Linked DNA regions of Homo sapiens: region 1 is linked to region 2. The links come from fine-mapping of genetic effects on plasma protein levels. A gene starts in region 2. The other region holds a variant in brackets. All regions are shown on one strand. Distances are from middle to middle. Region 1 holds the start of LOC124907744 (a long non-coding RNA gene). Region 2 holds the start of CGREF1 (cell growth regulator with EF-hand domain 1).

The links. PIP is the chance, under the fine-mapping model, that this variant and not a neighbour inherited with it causes the effect. The UK Biobank Pharma Proteomics Project read protein levels with antibody pairs (Olink). The fine-mapping took linkage between variants from a reference panel, not from the people measured, so its PIPs are less certain.
Region 1: its variant is fine-mapped to the plasma level of the CGREF1 protein (UK Biobank, PIP above 0.99).

The regions. Positions count from the first base shown.
Region 1 is chr2:27,099,785-27,105,089 of GRCh38, forward strand. It overlaps KHK (ketohexokinase), which reads left to right. Exons shown (of 8, transcript NM_006488.3): 8 at 1-978. It overlaps CGREF1 (cell growth regulator with EF-hand domain 1), which reads right to left. Exons shown (of 6, transcript NM_006569.6): 2 at 4,503-4,593; 3 at 2,742-2,807; 4 at 2,576-2,646; 5 at 2,313-2,437; 6 at 810-2,104. The coding sequence starts at 4,582. The coding sequence ends at 1,490. LOC124907744 (a long non-coding RNA gene) reads left to right here and starts at 4,593. Exons shown (of 2, transcript XR_007086252.1): 1 at 4,593-4,992. RefSeq lists enhancers at 1-99, 1,705-2,205 and a silencer at 1,819-1,998. The variant T/G (reference allele first, on the strand shown) is at 1,311.
Region 2 is chr2:27,116,611-27,121,976 of GRCh38, forward strand. It overlaps CGREF1 (cell growth regulator with EF-hand domain 1), which reads right to left and starts at 2,518. Exons shown (of 6, transcript NM_006569.6): 1 at 2,236-2,518. LOC124907744 (a long non-coding RNA gene) reads left to right here. Exons shown (of 2, transcript XR_007086252.1): 2 at 1-875. RefSeq lists enhancers at 1,450-1,950, 1,951-2,451.

The sequences.
Region 1 (5,305 bases), 17 kb before region 2:
TACCATTGCGGCTGCATCGCCTTCTCCCCTCCATCCAGCCTGGCGTCCAGGTTGCCCTGTTCAGGGGACAGATGCAAGCTGTGGGGAGGACTCTGCCTGTGTCCTGTGTTCCCCACAGGGAGAGGCTCTGGGGGGATGGCTGGGGGATGCAGAGCCTCAGAGCAAATAAATCTTCCTCAGAGCCAGCTTCTCCTCTCAATGTCTGAACTGCTCTGGCTGGGCATTCCTGAGGCTCTGACTCTTCGATCCTCCCTCTTTGTGTCCATTCCCCAAATTAACCTCTCCGCCCAGGCCCAGAGGAGGGGCTGCCTGGGCTAGAGCAGCGAGAAGTGCCCTGGGCTTGCCACCAGCTCTGCCCTGGCTGGGGAGGACACTCGGTGCCCCACACCCAGTGAACCTGCCAAAGAAACCGTGAGAGCTCTTCGGGGCCCTGCGTTGTGCAGACTCTATTCCCACAGCTCAGAAGCTGGGAGTCCACACCGCTGAGCTGAACTGACAGGCCAGTGGGGGGCAGGGGTGCGCCTCCTCTGCCCTGCCCACCAGCCTGTGATTTGATGGGGTCTTCATTGTCCAGAAATACCTCCTCCCGCTGACTGCCCCAGAGCCTGAAAGTCTCACCCTTGGAGCCCACCTTGGAATTAAGGGCGTGCCTCAGCCACAAATGTGACCCAGGATACAGAGTGTTGCTGTCCTCAGGGAGGTCCGATCTGGAACACATATTGGAATTGGGGCCAACTCCAATATAGGGTGGGTAAGGCCTTATAATGTAAAGAGCATATAATGTAAAGGGCTTTAGAGTGAGACAGACCTGGATTAAAATCTGCCATTTAATTAGCTGCATATCACCTTAGGGTACAGCACTTAACGCAATCTGCCTCAATTTCTTCATCTGTCAAATGGAACCAATTCTGCTTGGCTACAGAATTATTGTGAGGATAAAATCATATATAAAATGCCCAGCATGATGCCTGATGTGTACAAGGCTCTCAAAAAGTTCTAGTGATGATTAATATTACTGGGGATGGGGTCACCTGCCCTGAGCTGCAGGAGAGCATGGGGTGTCTGAACACCAGGTGAGGGGGAACCGGTGAGGGTTTGGGGCCCAGGGATAGACTGAGCTTTCCTCACTGGGTCCTCTGCAGCCGGCCATGGCTAGCACCATGCGCTCTGCTGCCGGAGCACCGTGAGGCCCAGAAACACTGGGCAGGCGGCATCCCTGTCCTTTCGGTCCCCAACCCCGTTCCTCTGAGAGGGTCTGGGCAGGCTGGACGGGTAGAGAGGTGGCCGGGGGGATGAATTCATTCAGTTCT[T/G]TATTGGTAATCTGCCCCTTAACTTAGGGTCTCCCTGAGCTGCACAGAAAGACCTGATACCTACTGGGACCAGGCAGGGGGCACAGAGATGGTCCTTGTCCCAGCGTACATTTCCCCTGCCCACTTCAGGGCTTATGTTCTGGCACTGAGACTTCGTGGGGTACCTGTATCTTCAAGATCTAGATCTCATCATTCTCCACTTGAACAATGTGCACCTCAAAGTCATTTTGGGTGTTCTTAGACTCCAGTGTTTCCCCTGGAAGTTCCTTGGCCTCCTCTCCATTCTCCCTGGCCTCTGCCTGGCCCCCAGCTTCCCCTCTGGGCCCGGGGGCATCTCCTTCAGCCTCTGCCTGGCCCCCAGCTTCCCCTCTGGGCCCGGGGGCATCTCCTTCAGCCTCTGCCTGGCCCCCAGCTTCCCCTCTGGGCCCAGGGGCATCTCCTTTAGCCTCTGCCTGGCCCTCAGCTTCCCCTCTGGGCCCTGGAACATCTCCATCAGCCTCTGCCTGGCCCCCAGGCTCCTGGACAGGATCCAAAGACTCCCTTCTGGCCTCTACCTGGCCCTTTGCTTCTTCTCTGGGACCAGGGGCTTCCTGTGTTTCTTGTCTTAATGGGCTTTTAGCTAATAGGGACTGCCTTCCAACAGCTTGTGGCTCCTGAGGAGATGGAGCAAGGGGCTCTCCGGGCTCCACGTGCCTGAGGGCTACTCCCGGGAAGTTGATGAGCTCAGCAGGGGTCATGAGCCCATCCCCATTCAGGTCCTGGGTCTCGAGCACTTTGTCCACTATCAAGATCACCTGTGGAAGCAGAGTCACTGTGGGGTCTCCAGGGACAGAGATGTTCCCAGGAGTTCTGACCCTCCCTAACACACCCTTGCATCCCTGCCGTGCAAGCTCTGAGCCCTCCTTTTACAGAGGACTCACCAAAAGAGTTATGATGAGAAAGACCAAAGCCCCAAAGTGCTGGGTCTCCTTTATGCGGGGATCTCCATCCAGCAGAGCTTACCGGGTTGGTGGTAGGAGAGTTGGCAGCTCCAGGGGCCAGAGCAGCTGTCAACATGGACAGCAGCTCCAGGCCATCCAGCTGTCCACTCTGGTCATAGTCATGGAGGGCAAAGAGGTAGAGGAGAACTAAAGAGAAGAGAAGCTGGATTAGAAGAGGTGCCGGGGGAGGTGGAGAAGGCAGGAGTCAATGGGGCAGCCGAGGTCAGTCCCAGATCTGGCTGCCCAGAGCCTCCCGTCCCTGGCCCCATCAGCCCAGCCCCTCACCCTGCTCCCGGCTCAGATGCTCCAGTTGCACTTCTGTCCTTCCTAGTCCCTTTAGGTAGCTCTGCAGAAGTCTGTCAGAAAAGTGGAGAATCAGCCCGGGAGAGGTGAGTCTGCAGCCCTGGGCCTGGTCTTCTCCCTGAAAGCACCCCCGGCCCACCCTACTCACCCGAGCTGCTCCTGGCCTGGCTGGAAGGGGTTGGGCAGGAGCTGATGCTGCACTTCAGAGTCTGGCCTGGAGGAGGAAGGGGAGGACCAGCCTTGCAGAGAGCCTCCCTCAGGGCCCAGCCTGCCAACCTTCTGCCTCCAATCTCCTGGCAGTTTTCTCCCCAGACCCAAAGGGAGTTGCCCCCAAAATTCCAAAAACCCTGTAGTGGGGAGGCTCTTCTGGTCTCCTTGGAACCAAATCCTTAACTCCCTCAGACTCTGTTTTTGCAGCTGGCTACCTTAGACTTTAAATGAAAACCCAAATAAAACAACTGGTTAGGTAGAGGCCAGATGAGGCCACACCTAGTAGACACAAGTTAGAGATCCAAGAAAACAGCCCAGTGAGTGGCAGGACAACATGGGTCACAGACCCCTCTCCTTCCATGCTGGGAGCCAAGGGACAGGTCTCTGGCTGAGCCTGGTGGCACTGCCCAGTTTTATATAGACCCAGTTTGCTCCATGACATAAAATTGACCTATACTTTTTCCAGGACAGGGTGTATCTGTTGGTTCTGGGGTTTCAAGCTGCTCAGGATCTCGTTGTCAGTCTTTCAAGCTCCAAATGTGCTCCCACTTCTGGACTGGGTTAACTGTTTGCCCAAGTCAATCCAGACCTGTGATGCCAGAGAGCTGGCAGGAGTTGCAGCGACTTTTGTCACAGCTACCAGCCCCTGTGGCTGTTCCTGTGGCTGTTTCCCCTTCTACCCAGCATACCCATTGCACAGTATTTATAAATAAAACCTTCAGAAAGGTATTCAGATAACATAGAAATGACATGCTAATGATCTCTACTTCTTTGGTGTTGCCACCATAAGGTCTTTTTTTTTCTGAGATAGAGTCTCGCTCTGTCACCCAGGCTGAGTGCAGTGGCTTGATCTCGGCTCACTGCAACTTCCACCTCCCGGGTTCAAGCGATTCTCTTGCCTCAGCCTCCTGAGTAGCTGGGATTACAGGCATGCACCACCATGCCCGGCTAATTGTTTTTTATTTCTGTAGAGATGGGGTTTCACCATGTTGGCCAGGCTGGTCTCGAACTCCTGACCTCAGGTGATCTGTCCGCCTCGGCCTCCCAAAGTGCTGGGATTACAGGTGTGAGCCACCACACCCAGCCCACCTCAAGGTCTTGATAACAAAACTGCAGGCCAGGCACGGTGGCTCATGCCTGTAATCCCAGCACTTTGAGAGGCCGATGTGGGCGGATCACAAGGTCAAGAGTTCGAGACCAGCCTGGCCAACATGGTGAAACCCCACCTCTACTAAAAATACAAAAATTAGCCCAGCATGGTGGCGGGCGCCTGTAGTCCCAGCTACTCGGGAGGCTGAGGCAGAAGAATTGCTTGAACCCGGGAGGCGGAGCTCGCAGTGAGCTGAGATCATGCCACTGCACTCCAGCCTGGGCGACAGAGTAAGACTCTGTCTCAAGAACAAACAAACAAACAAACAATTGCAGCCCCCACTTCTCTGGCGCCACAGCTTCTTCCCTGTTCTTCACGATGCACTGGAGCTGAGTTCTCTGATTCCAAATGGGTCCAGCAAGCATGTACTGAATGCCCACTTTGTGGCACTCTGACAGGCACAAGATGGGAGGCTGATGGCAGGGAGATACAGAGATCGGGGAACCTACACCCCAGTCTCCTGCCTCCCAGAGGGCCCACCACACCCTTGGATTCTCTAGAGACTTTCCCTCCTCCCAGCCCTTGGCCCTGCCCTCATAACCCTGTTACCTTGTGACTCCATCCTTTGGGGCAGCCTGACCCGTGGGGAGCAGCAGCAGGATTAACACTGTCATCGTCAAAGGTAACATCCTTCCTGGAACTGGAACAAGGAAGAGAATCAGGGGTCGGGGGAAAGAGGCGTCTGCCACCGTGTCACAGATGGGCTGGGTTAGACACAAGCGCATTTTCTGCCTGCTTCTACCTGCAGCCCCAAAGACAGGACTCCTGCTCAGGGAGGACTCACAGACAGACAGCAGGGATCCCATGGAACTATGCTCAAAATAAATGTCACTCCAGCTCTTGTATATAAAGCACATAAAGGCAGGCCTGCTGTGGCGGAAGCAGAGCTGGGGGCGCATCCCCACCCCACGCCCCATTCCCTTGCTCCCCACTAGGTGCCAAGGTGCCCAGAGAAGTACAGCGCAAGCATATCTGACCTCCTTCAGCCCATTCATCTTACAGATGGAAAGGAGCGCAGAAAGTTTAAGAAAAAGGCCAGGTAAGAAACGCAGGGAGTCACAAAAAGACCAAGACTTAAACACAGGCAAAAAGAGAAATGGACTGTTTGTGTTTATTAAAAACCCACTGAAGAACAAATCAAAAGAGGCGCAGACTTCTTGAAATAGGTCTAAACTCAAGTACAAACTGCAAACACAATAAATCAGGGTCAGACCAACAGTGGCCCCAGGAATTGCTATTTGCTAAATGCAGTTAGGAAAATTAGACCCACTATAAAGGAAAAAACAAAAACTTCCCCTAAGACTGACATGGCTTAGGCCCATTGGCAAAATCAACCACTTGAGTATATGAAA
Region 2 (5,366 bases):
CCAGGCTGGAGTGCAATGGCGCGATCTCAGCTCACCACAACCTCCACCTCCCGAGTTCAAGCGATTCTCCTGCCTCAGCCTCCCGAGTAGCTGGGATTACAGGCATGTGCCACCATGACCTGCTAATTTTGTATTTTTAGTAGAGATGGGGTTTCGGCATCTTGGCCAGGCTGGTCTTGAACTCCTGACCTCAGGTGATCTGCCCACCTTGGCCTCCCAAAGTGCTGGGATTACAGGGATGAGCCACCAGGCCAGGCCTATTCTCTCTCTCTCTCTCTCTCTCTCTCTCTCTCTCTCTCTCTCTCTCTCTCTCTTTTTTTGAGACAGAGTCTCGCTCTGTCACCCAGGCTGGAGTGCAGTGGCGCAAAATCTACTCACCATAGTCTCCACTTCCCAGGCTCAAGCGATTCTCCTGCCTCAGCCTCCCAAGTAGCTGGGATTACAGGTGTGCACCACTACACCTGGCTAATTTTTGTATTTTTAGTAGAGACGGGGTTTCACCACGTTGGACAGGCTGTTCTCGAACCCCTGATCAAGTGATCTACCCACCTTGGCCTCCCAAAGTGCTGGGATTACAGGCATGAGCCACTGCACCTGGCCAATATTCTAAGTAATGCTTCCAACTGTGACATTTTAGTGCAAGTAACCCACCTCAGTGGTTTAAGGAAAGGCTAAGACACCTCATGTAATGTGTAATGAGGTTAGTGCGATGTGTTGACACTTAGACATTTCTAAACATTAACAAAAGCTTTTGTGAGAGAAATAAAATAGTTATTGAACCACTGCCTGTCCAATAAAAATGTCCCTAACCATTTTCTATAACTATAATGTGCATGAACATAATTACCCTAATAAACACATGAAAGCCACCATAACTGTTAACAGTTGCCATGTAATTTAATAAAGTTATGTCACACACGTGCACTCACACATTCACAATGACCCTCCGGCCCCAGTGTTCTTCAAGCCTTTGCACCAGTGCATGGGAGGAGAGCACGCTCTACAGGTTAGACTTCTGATCAAATCCTGCCTCTGATACTACTCACTGTGGGACCTAGGCAGGTGTCTTAACCTCTCTGAGCCCTGGGATCTGAATTTTTTTTTTTTTTTTTTTTTGAGGCGGAGTCTCGCTCTGTCGCCCAGGCTGGAGTGCAATGGCACGATCTCGGCTCACAGCAAGCTCCGCCTCCCGGGTTCACGCCATTCTCCATTCTCCTGCCTCAGCCTCCCGAGTATCTGGGACTACAGGCGCCTGCCACCACGCCTGGCTAAATTTTTTTTGTATTTTTAGCAGAGACGGGGTTTCACCGTGTTAACCAGGATGGTATCGATTTCCTGACTTCGTGTTCCGCCCGTCTCGGCCTCCCAAAGTGCTGGGATTACAGGCGTGAGCCACTGCTCCTGGTCGGGATCTGCATTTTAAAAATGAGGATAACGGTATCTGTCTCCTAAAGGTTTGGGGAGGCTGCAATGAGAAAACTTAGGGTAGGTGCCTGGCACCAAGCAGGTGCTGCTTGGGTATTTCAGAGCCTCTGGGCTGTGGCAGGGGCCTTGCAGGGTTATCCTGGGTAACTTCCCATCCAAAGCAAAAATTTCTTCCTCAGCAACCCTGTCAAATGGCCTCTGCTTGAATCATTCCAGGACAGGAACCTAGCACCTCACAGGCCGGCAGTTCCATCTCCTGTAGAGTCGAACTGTTGGGAAGCTAAAATTTTGAGTAGAATCCTCTCCCTTAATTCTTAATTTATCCCTCTGGTGCCCTTGTGCCTCCCAGCACCCATCCCCCAAGAAAGGAGACAGCGGCTACAGGGCTAGAGGAGCCCACACCCGGGAGCTGGTCCCTCGGCCACCTGCAAGCGGACGACAGCCTCGGGCCCTCCCCAGCGCTCCATTTCTTCCCCGTCGGATGAGGGGGAAAGCTCCCGCCAGCTGCCCCTCCCCCAGGACTGCTGGAACACGGAATGCGGGGCTGGGGGAAGCGCCTGGGGAACTGCGAAGCCCCAAATTCACACCAAGGAGCCTCAGGCTCGCTCTCCAGTCCCTTCCTCCACCTGCCCTCAGGGTACACAGGGGCAAGGGCCACTGCTCCCGCCGCGTCTGAGCCGCAGGGGATGCAGAGGGACTGCGCTCTCGGGATCTGGACCAGAGGCTGGAGGCCACCTACCCCGCGCGGCCCTGGCTGGCTGACGGCGATGGGCTCGGGTCTCCGGCCGGCCGGGGCGGGGTGTCACCCACCTGCTGCGGCGCCGCGCGGCTCTGGGGGTCCAGCTCCGTGGGCGCTCCTGGCTGCTGCGCCGCCCGCGCCTCGCCTCCCGCCGCCAGCCTCCCCCGGGCCGCTCCACGTGGCCGCTCCACGTCGCCCTCCCGGCTGGAGCCGCCGCCCTGGCCGGGCAGAGTCCGGAGCCAGTGCCAGCCGCCGCCCCGCCCGCCGGACCTGGCCCTTCGCAGCTCCACCAGCGCCCCCGCTGCGCCCGCGGCCGGAGGGGCTGCGCGCGCCCGTGTGAGTGTGCGCGTGTGTGCGTGCGTGAGTGCGCATGTGCGCGTGTGCGAGTCCGCGTGTGCTCGTGAGTGCGCTCGTGTGCTTGTGCGGGTGTGCACATGCGTGTGACATTGTGAGCGTGAGTGTGAGCATGTGTAAGGATGCACGTGTGTGAGCGTGCATGTGTGCGCGGATGTGTGCGTGTGCCTGTATGCACACATGTGAGTACAGAGAGACCAAGAGACAGTGAGGCCAGTGTGCATCAGAAGTATGTTTAACTGTGCTCATGCTTTGGTTGCCACTTTCTCTGCCTGAGGGACCCAGATGTATGTGACAAAATGGAACCTAACTTACTGTTAGCATGTGCGGTTGTGACTGGCATGTGTGGCTCTGTGTATGAGGAATTTGTGACACGGTAGGGGGTATTTTGTGTGACTGTGCATCCGTGTGATAGTGTGGGCTTCAGGGGCCGGGCGTGGTGGCTCACACCTGTAATCCCACCACTTTGGGAGGCCAAGGCGGGTGGATCACGAGGTCAGGAGATGGAGACCATCCTGGTTAACACAGTGAAACCCCGTCTCTACTGAAAATACAAAAACATTAGCCGGGCATGGTGACGGGCGCCTGTAGTGTCAGCTACTCGGGAGGCTGAGGCAGGAGGATGGCATGAACCTGGGTGGTGGAGCTTGCAGTGAGCCGAGATCACGCCACTGCACTCCAGCCTGGGTGACAAAGCAAGACTGAGACTCCGTCTCAATAAATAAATAAATAAATAAAAAATAAATGATAGTGTGGGCTTCAGGGTATGGCCAATGTGTGACTGACTGCCCAGGGGTGTGGCGGTGCAGAGTGTTAGAGGCATATGTATTGGGGTGTCAGGGTGAACTCTTCCTGAGTTGTTTGTGACACTCCATCACAGCGACACTGTCATCACAGCGACAAGCCCACTCTCATCCTGTCCTCCTCCCAGTGATGAACACTGCTTGTCACTGCCTTTTTAGATCACGGATTCTGCTGGTTTCGGCAATACCTCTCCTACCTCTGGTCATTTCAAAAAGGTCTCCATTTTCTTCACCGTCAGAGTTCCTCAGGGCCCTCTCCTCACTTTCCATCTGCTCATGTGCTCATCTGCTCACCTAGCTCCCATCACTGTTATGCATTGACTCGTGTCCTTCACAAAGTTATATGTTGAAGTCTTAACCTCCAATACCTCAGACTGTGACCTTATTTGGAAATAGGGTCATTGCAGATGTAATCCATTAAGATGAGGTCATACTGGAGTAGGGTGGGCCCCTAATCAATATGACTGGTGTTCATATCAAAAGAGGAAATGTGGACACAGACACACACATAGGAAGAACATTGCTATGGCCTGAATATCCCACCAAATTCATGTGCTGAAACTTAGTCCCCATTGTGGTGATATTAAGAGGAGGAAGCCAGGCACAGTGGCTCACACCTGTAATCCCAGCACTTTGGGAGGCCGAAGTGTGAGGATCTCTTGAGGCCAGGAGTTTTCGACCAGTCTGGGCAACATAGTGAGACCGTGTCTCTACAATAAATAAATAAATAAAAATTAGGCATGGTGGTGCACGCCTGTAGTCCCAGCTATTTGGGAGGCTGAGGCAGGCAGATCCCTTGAGTCCAGGAATTTGAGGTTACAGTGAGCTGTGATCCTGCCACTGCACTCCAACCTTGGTGACAGAGCGACATCCTGCCTCTGAAAAAAACCAAAAAGGAGTAGGGCCTTTTGGGACATGATGAAACCATGAGGGCTCTCCCCTCATGAAGGGATTAATGACCTTATGAAAGAGGTTTCTGAGAGAGTTCACCCCTCTTGCTCTCTTGCCTTTCTGTCCCTTCCATCACATGAGGAAACCCAGACGCACCATCTCTGAGGAATGGACCTTCACAGACACCGAACCTGCCAGTGCCTGGATCTTGGACTTCCCAGTCTCCAGAACTGTGAGGAATAAATTTCTGTTGTTTGTAAATTACTCAGTCTGTGGGATTTTGTTATAGCAGCACAAACTCACTAAGATGTTTGTGAAGATGAAGACAGAGATCAGGGTGATGCTTCTACCAGTCAGGGAGTGCCAAAGATTTCCAGCAAAATGCCAGAAGCCAGGGGAGAGGCATGGAATAGATTATTCCTCACGGTTCCCAGAATGAACCCACCCTACTGATATTTCAGTCTTGACTTCTAGTCTCCAGAAGTGTGAGACAATAAATCTCTGTTGTTTAAGACAGTCCCCAACCTTTTTGGCACCAGGGACCAGTTTCAGAGAAGACAATCTTTTTTTTTTTTTCTTTTTTTTTTCTTTTTTTGTATTTTTTTAGTAGGGACGAGGTTTCACCATGTTGGCCAGCCTGGTCTCGAACTCCTGACCTCAGGTGATCCGCCTGCCTTGAACTCTCAAAGCATTGGGCGTTACAGGCGTGAGCCACGTGCCCAGCCTCAGAGAAGACAATCTTTCCACAGATCAGAAGGGTTGGGGGTGAGGGTGATGGTTTTGGGATGAAACTTCCACCTCAGATCAACAGGCATTAGATTCTAATAAGGAGCACGCAACCTAGATCCTTCTTGTGTGCAGTTCACATAGGGTTTGCGCTCCTATGAGAATCTAATTCCACTGCTGATCTCAGGCAGTAATGCTTGCTCATCCTGCTCACCTTCTGCTATGCCACCTGGTTCCTACCAGGTCATGGACCAGTACCAATTTGCAGCCCAGGGGGTTGGGGACCCCTGGTTTAAGACACCCAGTTTGTAGTGCTTTCTTACAGCAAACTGCCAACTAATACACCACCTAAATGCTGATGATTGCCAATTCTCCACCTCCAATCTCTAAGCCCCAGGCCACTTCAGGCATTGAATATCCTACTAATT